Linked DNA regions of Homo sapiens: region 1 is linked to region 2. The links come from fine-mapping of genetic effects on gene expression. A gene starts in region 2. The other region holds a variant in brackets. All regions are shown on one strand. Distances are from middle to middle.

Region 1 (5,378 bases), 160 kb after region 2:
CACTAAATCTCTCCCTCTTTTTTTTTTTTTTTTTTTTTTTTTTGTGAGATGGAGTCTCATTCTATTGCCCAAGCTGGAGTGCAGTGGCATGATCTCTGCTCACTGCAGCCTCTGTCTCCTGGGTTCTAGCGATTCTCCTGCCTCAGTCTCCTGAGTAGCTAGGATTACAGGTACCTGCCACCACACCCAGCTAATTTTTGGAGTTTTAGTAGAGATGGGGTTTCACCATGTTGGCCAGGATGCTCTTGAACTCCTGATGTCAAGTGACCTGCCTGCCTTGGCCTCCCAAAGTGCTGGGATTATGCCTCCCAGGTGTTGAGCCACCAGGCACAGCCCACTAAGTCTCTCTTTTGACCTGCACAGAGTCCTTCCTCTCCATGTCCACCAGCTGGAGGTGGATCCAGGAGGGTCTTCTCTGCATGGCTGCAGGTACCCTTGGAAGTTCCGGAAGATGTGAAGAGTAAAGTACAGTGGAACAGCCACTGCAATACACTCTGATATGTTTCATCCAATGGGGGTGGCATTTACTGAGACACAGGGCTGGGCACTGTGGGGTGATGCATAGAAGAGACAAGGCTCAGCCTCCAGGTGCTACTACCCTGCTAGCAGCACAGCCATGCAACCAACTGTGGGACCAAGAGTGTTGTCTGTTCTCAACTTATAATATGTTTAATGTTTTTTTTTTTAGCACTGGGTACTCTTCGTCCGACAAGATGTAGCAGATTCACTTTAGGAGATAAGAGCAGAGCTGTCCTGGTTGGGTGGACTAGGCTTTCAGGCTTGCCCAGCTAAATGTCTCTGTGCTTCCAGCTCCTCCACTTCTGGGTAAATAGAACCCTGAGGTCCCTCAGAGAACAGCCTGAAAACCATTAATATGGCAATGTATAGCAGTTAACTACCTGGGTTTGAATCCTAGCTTTGTTACTCACTAGCTCTTGATCCTGACAAAGTTACTTAACTTCTTGGACTCTCAGTTTCTTCATCTGCAAAATTGGGACAGAAATTATGCCTGTTTCATTGGGGTTGTGAGGTTTAAATGAGCTCATGCATATAAAGTACTCAACATTAATTTAGTGTTACTACTTAGTCAATAAGTAATGAGGACTCATAAGCTATAGCTATTAGTCTTATTAAGGACTTATTGCTATTAGTCTTGTCACTGAACTGAAAGAGTTACTGGATTCAGTAAATGAGGGAGCTCGAGCTCTGTCAATCTGAGACCTCTCAAAGAGGAGATAATTTTTCCAGTCAGGGAGATGGTGTAAAAGCAGCCACATGATCAAGCTGCAAGTCAAGTATCAACAAATTTAAGATACTTTTTTCTTTAATCACAAAAATATCACATTCGGATTTTTCAAAAAGCAATGAAAACTCTTCCACGATAAAATTTTGGCAGGGTGATCTTCAGCAGGCCATTTGACCCCCTGAGCCAGTTCCCTTTTCTGAAGAACAGAGGCAATGAACCTCTGTTCTCAGAGTTTTGGGGAGGCTCAAATGAGGCTTGAGAGTGCCAAGCATCCTCCGAGCTGTTTGTCATCGAGCCCCAAGGAGCCCTTGGCACCTAGTAGGCGTCAGTAAATATTTGTTGCATCTGAACTCTTTCCATCTGGGAAGCCCTCCAATGGCCTGGAATCTCCAGCTCTCCCGCTAAGCAGGTCAGAAAAGCAACTTAAAGGATCCATTTTAGTGTCCATTTTCTCACTTTTCCCCCTGAAAAACCACTTACAAAGCTGCCAGCTTCCTCATTTGGCTTTTTCTGGCCTGGTTTCATCTTATTAACGGTCACTTCATTCATCAGCATAAGGAAGACTCCACTCTGTCAACAGGAGGGCAGGGCTTGGCCTCCAGTCACAGGGCAATGGCGGGGGTGGAGGAGCCTGGAAACAGCCATAGCGTAGGCTTAATGAATAAAAAGTTGCGGTTGAGAAGGCCCAGGATTCCCAAACAGCCTTCCCTCCACCCCCAAACAGCTGATCATTGGATAGTGAGGAAGCAGGTGCTCCTTCAGAAAACTCTGTTCATTCATTCATTCATTCATTCATTCATTCATTTAACTACTCATTCATTCACAACTATTTCTCGAGTGCTTATTATGCACGGGGAATAGAATGCTGAACAGAAAAGCACACCCACTCCCTGCCCTCATGGAACTTACAGTTTGGGGGGAGGATCACTCACATTAATCAAATGATCCTCGCCATCTTTGGGGCTATGGTGCATTCCAGGGAGGCTTCCTGAGGAGATGACCCTGATCTAAGATCTAAAGGAGACCTTGGAGGAAACGGGCTGTGGGGATTGGGGAGATGGTTCAAAGAACATCATATGCAAAGGCCCTACAGAAGGAAGAACGTTTTTGGGACACAGACAAGCAAGATCGAGAAAGTTCACTTGCTTTTGATGGGACCCTCAGGCTGGAGACACGCTGGTCACCAAGTAGCGCCAGGTGCTCAGGCAGAAGTCAGCCGACTCTGGGTTCGAGTCCCAGCCCCACTGCTGGTCAGCTCCTTCTTATACCTCAGTTTTCCAGCTGTAAAATGGGACTAAGGCCATTCTTGTAGGCCAATGGTGAGGATGGGAAATACGCACGTCATTACCCGATGGGACGGTGCCAGCTCCCCTCGTCCACCGACGTGGGCCCGAGCTAGGGTTCTGAGCCGGATCCGGGGGGAACCGCGCGTCTAGGGCTGGAAACCCGCCGCCACAGCGGGCTAGAGGTCGTCCCCGCCCGCAACATATGCGCGAAGGAAAGTGCTACGAACGTCAAATGGCCGCCCCCCGCCGACGCCATCTGCTCTGCGAAGCAGAAACGGCGGCAGCTGCGCGCCCAGTCCCTCCGCCCGCGCCCCGCGCGCCGAGTCCGGATCCGCCGCCCGGCGGCACCGCGGACAGCGCCAGCCCCGGGGTGGCGGGCGCGGGGCTGGGGGCGCTGGGAAGAGGGGTCCGCTGTAAGGCCCTCCCGCCGCCTCGGGGCCAGTCTGGGTCTAGCCACTTCACCTGTGTGCTTGAAATGTCAGTTCTTTACCAGCCAGGCTGCCGTTTGTTTGGCTCCGCCCTCCGGGGGCA[A/T]ACCAAAGCACGGATAACTGGTCCCTGAGACAGATAAACCTGGGTTCTAATAACAGCTCAAAAACCAACCAGCTGTGTGGTATTAGGGAAGTCGCTTGACTTCTCTGGACCTCTGTTTTGTCTTCTGTAAGATGGGTATAATAAGCGCTGTGCCCTAGGGTTGCTAGGAGGATTAAATAGAAAGTTCTATGTGAAGTGTTTAACACAATGCCTGGCACATAATAAAACATAACTGCTAGCTAATTATTTTATTCAAAGCTTACTTTTCTAGGGCTTTATGGTTACTCGCTGGGTTTCTGTGGCCCCTTAAAATTTCAGCTTGCTCCCCATCCCCACTCTCCTGCATTCTTCTTCAAACGTGGATGAACAGGCCCAAAGATGCTGCAGCTTTTTGGAACATTTCACCACAACATTGGGAAATCCCTGGATTCCCCACACTCTCCTGGTCCTGAAAGAGACTCAGTTTGCAAATGTCTTTTGATGTTGTCCAGAACCATCCGTTATAACAAAGGCCATTTTCAAAATGGTAAAAGTTCACGAAGGGACTGGCTAGAAGAGTGGCTGGTGGGAAGGCAGGGTGGTAACAGAAAGTAGACTGAGAACAGGGAAACAAGAAAATAAAGAGGCCGGAGGTAGGGAGGTGGCTGCATTCATTACATTAAAAGTGGATCATTCCAGGATTTCATCTCAAGCAAAGATAATCAGAAGGCATGGGCTTTCGTTAACATTTTACCACTTAGCATTTTGGCTATGCTACTTTAGGCAGTTGAGTTCACAAATGTTCACTGAGTGGCTGCTATGTGTCAGGCGCTGTGCTAGGCTCTGGGACTAAAAAAGTGACCAAACCTAGACTGTGCCTTCAGGAGTTGATGGCCCAGTGGGAATCAGACAAGCATGGGTGGAATGGTAGGGGGTGCCTCAGGGCCCCAAAGAGAGGCCTATCAACATTCTAGGGGTTTAGTGGGAGTCACCAAGCTTTACCACACCTCATTTTCCCATCTGAGGCTCCGGGCTCACAATCCCCACCTGCAAGGCTTATGATAAGTAGCAGCTGAGCCTTTCTTTACTCCTGGAACCTGACCACCTACCCTGCGCCCCACCCCAAAAGCTCAGCACTCTGCTCTCCTTCAGTAGCCAAGCAGCTGCCACAACCTTGAAGACTAAAAAGAGGAAAACAGGAGAAAACGTTATATACAGGAAATCATTGCACAGCACAAGAGATGTGTATTACAAACCCCGACGTCGAAGGTCACCTGCCATACTCCATGGTGCTTAGGGTGCTAAACAATATGAATGGAAGATGATGATGGGGGTGAAGAGAAAGTGAAGGGGAAGTGGAGGGGCAAGAGTGGAAGAGGAAGATTTGTCTTTTATGGAAGAGCTGCGTCATGTTTATTATTTTAACAAATGTGTGATTCAACAAATATGTACTAAGCATATATTCTTTGCAAGAAAGTGAACAGATCAAAGTCCCTACTCTCAGGAACTTATAGTTTCCTAGTGGGGCTTCAGAGTGCAATCAAGTAACCAAAACATATGAAGTGGTTGGTGATGAGTGCTCTGAAGGTGATAAAATAATAATAAAGGGTTAGGAGCAACAGTGACTGCTGATTTATGTGGCATCTGAGCATGTGAATCCTAATATTCGATAATTTTTTGTCTGAACCTAGCCATCCTTTTGGCAGGGGGGAAGCAAATTATTCATGTCTAACTCTGAGTAAATATGTTCAATTCACCTTAAATTTTCTAAAACAGTCTTCTATTAGAACATATAGGCAAAATGAGCCCTTAAAAAACACCCTTAAACCTGTTCAGATTCAACTAATACAACATGTCAATATAGATGCTTCTAGAGTCTTTTCTATGCATATACTATATATATTTATATATAATTTAAAAGGGATCATTACATACTGTGTTATAATAATATTCCATGATAAACTTTCCTTACTGGCAGACATATTTTGGCAATATTATCTTAAATAACTCTATATTATTCATTGTATCTGTGCATCACAATTTAATTAACTGATCCCCTATGATGGAGCATTATTTTAAATAATGCCACAATGAATCTCTAAATATTTGCCCACATCCCTAGTTAATTTCACACTCACAGAGTCCTAAGTGTCTTCCTGGAGACTTTGGGACACTCTCAGGCAACAGAGGAGCAGAGAAGCATGATGGTGTTTTTGAGGGGAAGAGGTATCACCTTTTGGGGCCATCTCCCTGCAAAATAGGTAGCCCAATTCCTTAAATTTTGGGGCTGCTTTTGGCTTAAGTCTAGCACCCAAGACTATTTTGCACTAGACAAG
Region 2 (5,378 bases):
TGAAGCCCCACATAAAATTACACCTTTTTTTTTTTGCTACAAAACCTGGTTCTTATATAGCAAAGTTAAACAAAGCAGCTATGCTAAATTAGCGTTACATAAAGGCGAGTTTAATGCTCGGTTACAGTCAACTGGTGTATCTCTGATGGCTAATTGTCTATCAAAATTAAAGAGAAAAGAACAAATGATTCGTTATAAGAAGGTGTTAAAAGCCTCAACAAAAGGACATTTCACAAATATAATATCGGCAGCTCCCGGATTGCCTGCGGGGTTGTTCAGGCCCCGGGCCTGCACAGCTATGAGAAGTGGGGTGCAGGGTGCTATTTGCCCAGCAAAAGCTCATTTCCTCCCAAATGAGTATAATGAAAACCCGAGAGGCGATATTAGTGTAAAGATCGGGATTAGTCCAAATAGGAGCCGCGGACTTGGGCTTCAAAGGCGACCCCTACTCTTTTTGCCCAGTCTGGGGGCGGAGGGCGCTCGAAGGGATACTTCAAGGACACCACATCCAACTTGTCGCAGCCCCACGTTCAGGCACAGGAGGGAGCGAACATTGGGCAGAGGGTAATTTCAACAAAGGACGGCAGGCTCCGGGGATCCCGGCTTTTCCCTGAGTTCTCTGGGTTGGAAGGAGAGGGTCCGGGCTCTGTCGGAGGAGTGGGTACAGCCCAGCACATGCTTTTCTGACGCGCAGCGCTGGCCTGGGGAGTGGGTGCAGCTGCTGCAGCCAGCCCCCACCCCGCCCCAGGCTGGGAAGGACGCAGAGTATAATACGACGGCCCCCTTCCCCAAGGGGACACTAGATCCAGAGCTCCAGGCATATTTGTTGTTCAAAGTTAATTATACCTGAAAGCAACCAAAATGCGCACGCCAGGCCCACGGAGGCCGATTGCCGACCAGCGTAGCCGGCCCGCAGCGCCAGAGAAGCCGCTCACTCCGGCGGAGTCTCTGCAAGAGAATCTGAGGCTGGGGAATAAAAGCCGAAACTAAATCAGGCAGCAAGAGTAACAAACCATCTGGAAAATGGACCCACGGAGCCGCAAGAATGTACTTTTTTTTTTTATCCTTGACAACTTGTGTCCTAAAGAAAGTGTATTGAAGATAATTGAAATGATTACAATTCATTGCTGCCTGACTTTGAATATGAACAGTCACATAATGACATCCCCGCCACACAACAACAGTTTAATTTCCATTATCCGACTTCGGGATCCTAGCGCCAGCCGCCGGGGCAACGTGGCGCTAATGCAGAAATCTTGGCTCCTGCCTGCATTATTCATTTCGGGGACGTGGGGATGGGATAGGAGTGGAGAGTGGGTTTCTTCCCCTCCCCCGAACTTATTCTGAAAATCCCGGGGACCAATGGACACCGAGGAACCGAAAGCCGAGAGAATAGCTGTCAAGGGGCCACTTTGACCGACGGGGCTGCGGTCGACGGCGCTCCCCGGCTGTCTTTTTGTCCCAGGGGTTCCCAGGCCCGCAGGGCTAGGATCCCCCAGCTCCCACCCTAGTCAGTCCCAGTCAGGGAGGACCTAGGCCAGGGCCTCCTCCCAAGGCTGTCATCTGGCGGGGCAAACGCTCTTCTCTCATTCCTTCGTCTCCCTTCCAGCCCTCGCATCCTTTCCTTCTTTCTGCTTCAGAGCTCTCAGGCTCGCGTGCAGGGCGGGATGGGCCCGGATCGGGGGCCCCTTCGCAGATTTGAAAGTTGCCTCGGCCTTGATCTTCTCCCAGCCTCCCTGCTGGGGACTCACCCCCACATCCCGCTACCCCCCGGGGAAAAGCGAAGAAAGCCAGAGTCTCTTTGCACGGCGGGGACGCTGGCGCTCACCTCTGGGCGCGGCCTCGGTGGAGCCTCAGGGCCAGGGCGGGGTGTGGCGGGGTGTGGCCCGGTGGGGTGAGGGAGGGACCCGGGGTGCAAGCCAGGCCAAGGCCTCCTCAGTGCGCAGGCGCCGTTCGGGCCCGCCGCCCCCTCCCAAGGCGTGGGGTCCCGGGGACAGACCCCGAGCCCCTCTCTGCGCAACTACCGCCTCTAAAAAAAAGACCATCTGGTAATTGTCTTTCTTTAGATCTTCCCTTAATTATGCTTTTAATTAAAGATGGTTCAAGGCACCGGACCACATGAAGGGCAGTAATTACAAATTACATTACAAACCCGACAGACGTAGCAGGATCTGCTGGGAAAAAGGTACCGGAATAAAAATTTGACTAAAGTTTGGGATAAATTAATCGGTGGCTTGAAGAACAGTAGCACATTTCTGATTATGTAGGCTCCAGCCAGGATTTAAGTTTTGTGTCATGATTGTTTTCATATTTCTTTGACATCTATTGATTTGGAGGCAGCTGCAAGCCTTTGTCACAGGAGAGAAGAGCAGTCACAATATATTAGCTTGATGGCATAACTCGAACCGGAGAAGCGAGGGGAGCCTGAGTGACTGGGGCGCACATGACCCCCCTCCTGGGGCCTTTGGGCTCAACCCTTACTTTTAACTTGTTCTAACAGGAATAATGGAGTAGTACTACTAATGCATGGTCAGAAGGGGCTTTTCTGTCTAGAACGCAGGCGGCGGGAGTTGCACCGCCACAGCCCGGGAGACCAAAGAGTCTCCACTCCCCGCTCCCGGCGCCTCCTCGCCGACCGGAGCCCCGAGCCCAGTGAGCCCAGCCGGTCCCACGTCGAGAGGCGCTGGGTTGGGAGAAGTTCTGCTGGTCGTGGGCTCGGCCCCCAGGCGCCAGGCCGAGTGCCCACCTCGGCTTCTTTAGGGGGCCTACAGCGGGCAGCCGAGCGGCTGGCGGACCCGGAGCTTGGGAGGCGACCGCCAGGCTGGTGCCCGGCCTGACCCGGCGTTCGCGGCCGCCCGCTCGCCCGCCGCGGGCCGGGAGCGTACAGGAGTGTGACGCAGATTGTGAAAACAGAAGGGAGGGAGTTGGGTCATTTCCTTCGCTAATCATCGCCCCCTCCTGCTCCTCCTCCCCACCCCCATCCCATCCTCGCCGCCACCCAGCCTCGAACTCTCTTCCTTGCCAGAGTCTGCCTCACTTTGAGCCAGTGGCTGCACTTTATGGAGAAAATATATGTGCCCATCACTCACCCATCTATTTGCAGCGTCCATGGAGCGCCTCGGGGAACACGCATGGACAATTAAACACACCCACTTACGGCGGGATGATGAGGCTTTCTGTTAACCACATGTGTTCAGAAATGGATACAGCCCTAATTTTGACACGGAATGCAGCTAATGCACCTTGCTATAGATGTACGTCCGTTGGAAAAGTGTGTGATGGGCACCTGATCTACACCAAGAGAACAGGGCTGTCTGCAGAAGACCCAGCGGCCTGACACCTTTTCTTGTTGCCGGGGAAGGAAAGTTTTTCTTTTGATTTGTCCTCTCACGATTTTTCCCTTTTCCTTTGCATTACAGTTTCAGAGAGGAATGTAAATATTTTGACTAGACCTCTGCAGGGGCCTTTTAAACACCAGGCACAATCATCTGTGGAATACTGTAGTTCATACTTTCAAAACTTGGGTGTTAAAGAGTCTGTCTTGCTGAGGAAACCCATAGAACTAGTGGCGACCTTTCAACTCCCTATTTGTGTGATGAAATGAAGTATGCCCTAGTGATTGTCGAATTTTAAGGACTTGTTCTGTCACTGCTACTTTCCGATCGTTTGCAGGGAAGAAAAATCAATCAAACAGACCTTTGATGGGGTTGTGGCAAGGTCACATTTCACTGTGCTCCAGGCTTACCTCTTCTTAACGCCCCTCCCTGCTGTGGAGCGTGTGCAGGTAGTATGCAAAACTCTAGAAATAATATTTGAAAAAATTAACACCTTGTTTATCTCTTCTGTGTATTTGATATAGGGGTTTCTTTCTTTTCCTGTTTTGGTGTTTAATACAAGGCTGATATATTGGAACAGAATGCAGACTTCAAAGAAACTAAAATTAGGAGGCAAATAGCGTCAAGGTTTCCTCGGTTTCTGTATGTAGTACAAATAGTATAGCGTCTTTTCATCCAAAAAGAAGCAAAAATTGCCAGGAGGCATAAAGCATCTCTGAATATCCGTTTTTTTTAAAGAAACAAACATTTCCCAAATATTGATGTACGCATGGTTTTATAGTCTGAAAATATTTCTAGGCACAAATATGGCATACAAACATTCGTTTCAACTCTGTCGTTGTTGTTAAAATGACAGTAAATTATAGTTTATTTTAAGATACCTCCCTGTTAATGTCAGTTGAGGTTATTTTAGGGCCTGGATGCTCTAGGAAGACCACCTAAAATGTGTTTATTTCTCTGCCCAATTCACCTATAGTGTAAGGAGCATTTTATTTTATTTTATTTTATTTTATTTTATTTTATTATACTTTAAGTTTTAGGGTACATGTGCACAATGTGCAGGTTTGTTACATGTGTATACTTGTGCCATGTTGGTGTGATGCACCCATTAACTCGTCATTTAGCATTAGGTATATCTCCTAATGCTATCCCTCCCCTCCCCCCATCCCACAACAGTCCCCAGAGTGTCATGTAAGGAGCATTTTAAATAAAATATTTTGGGCATCCTTAAGTCCTTTTTTAAAAATCCAACATTCTACAATTGTGACAAATAGGCTGAAAAATTTTGTTTTGTTTATACCAAATTCATTTTAATAAAGCATTTGCTGAGATTTTAATACAACAAATGCCAACAAAATGCATCAGAGTAGAAAAAAGAAAATATTTTCAGAATTGCCTATAATATTGCTTGTGATCCTAAATTTTTTGATGCAAGGAACTTGAATTTTTCAGCTAATATTATTCTGTTTTCTTATTCTGTGTTTCTATTAGAACACTCACCTATGCTCTGCTTCCCTTGCTGTCTTCCCATAGCTTATGTGTGCACTATGAATTTCAATAAATATAAATTACTGCTTAAAAGAGTAAAGAATGGCTACTTTATGACTCACTGTTCTCTCCTTACAATCTGCTCAAAAATCTTTTTTACAAATCCCATTGTAGCTACTTCCCCTCAATTCCACGATGAAAGTGAATGGCAAATGCCATTCAATTTAGAGGAACTCAAGCACAGAGAATATAAAGATGTTGTTCAAAGCCTCCCTCAAATCTATCTGTAGGCTTACAAACAAAATGAGACTGGAGGCAACATCAGTACACATCTCCGACTCCATATGAGGTTACTTGAAGCTTTGGGGTTCACTCTGGAAACAGAAGACATGCATCAAGGTATGTGTTCCTTAGAGACTGACAAGCAACAGTGGACCTCAGGAGAAATAAAACAACTCATGCTCTCAACTGCCTCTGATTTGCAGACAAGGAAGAGTTTTCTCTAATTTTTTTTTTTTTTTTTTTTTTTTGCCTGCATTACTTTTTCTGTGCTTG

Which allele goes with the higher level. Alleles are on the strand shown, and positions count from the first base shown. SD is a standard deviation of normalised expression in the study named.
For the expression in cerebellar hemisphere of the gene that starts at base 2,182 in region 2, allele A in region 1 goes with a higher level than allele T (small effect, 0.21 SD a copy in GTEx).

What was found. PIP is the estimated chance that this variant, and not a neighbour inherited with it, causes the effect.
Region 1: its variant is the best candidate, but not a certain one, in a credible set for the expression of PAUPAR in cerebellar hemisphere (GTEx, PIP 0.75).

What each region holds. Positions count from the first base shown.
Region 1 is chr11:31,984,676-31,990,053 of GRCh38, forward strand. No RefSeq gene overlaps it. Among named protein-coding and RNA genes, the nearest start is that of LINC03031, 54 kb to the right of the region's middle. RefSeq lists an enhancer at 2,273-2,773. The variant A/T (reference allele first, on the strand shown) is at 3,064.
Region 2 is chr11:31,824,386-31,829,763 of GRCh38, forward strand. It overlaps PAUPAR (PAX6 upstream antisense RNA), which reads left to right and starts at 2,182. Exons shown (of 1, transcript NR_117094.1): 1 at 2,182-4,918. All of the region lies in intron 1 of PAX6-AS1 (PAX6 antisense RNA 1), which reads left to right. RefSeq lists an enhancer at 1,431-2,855.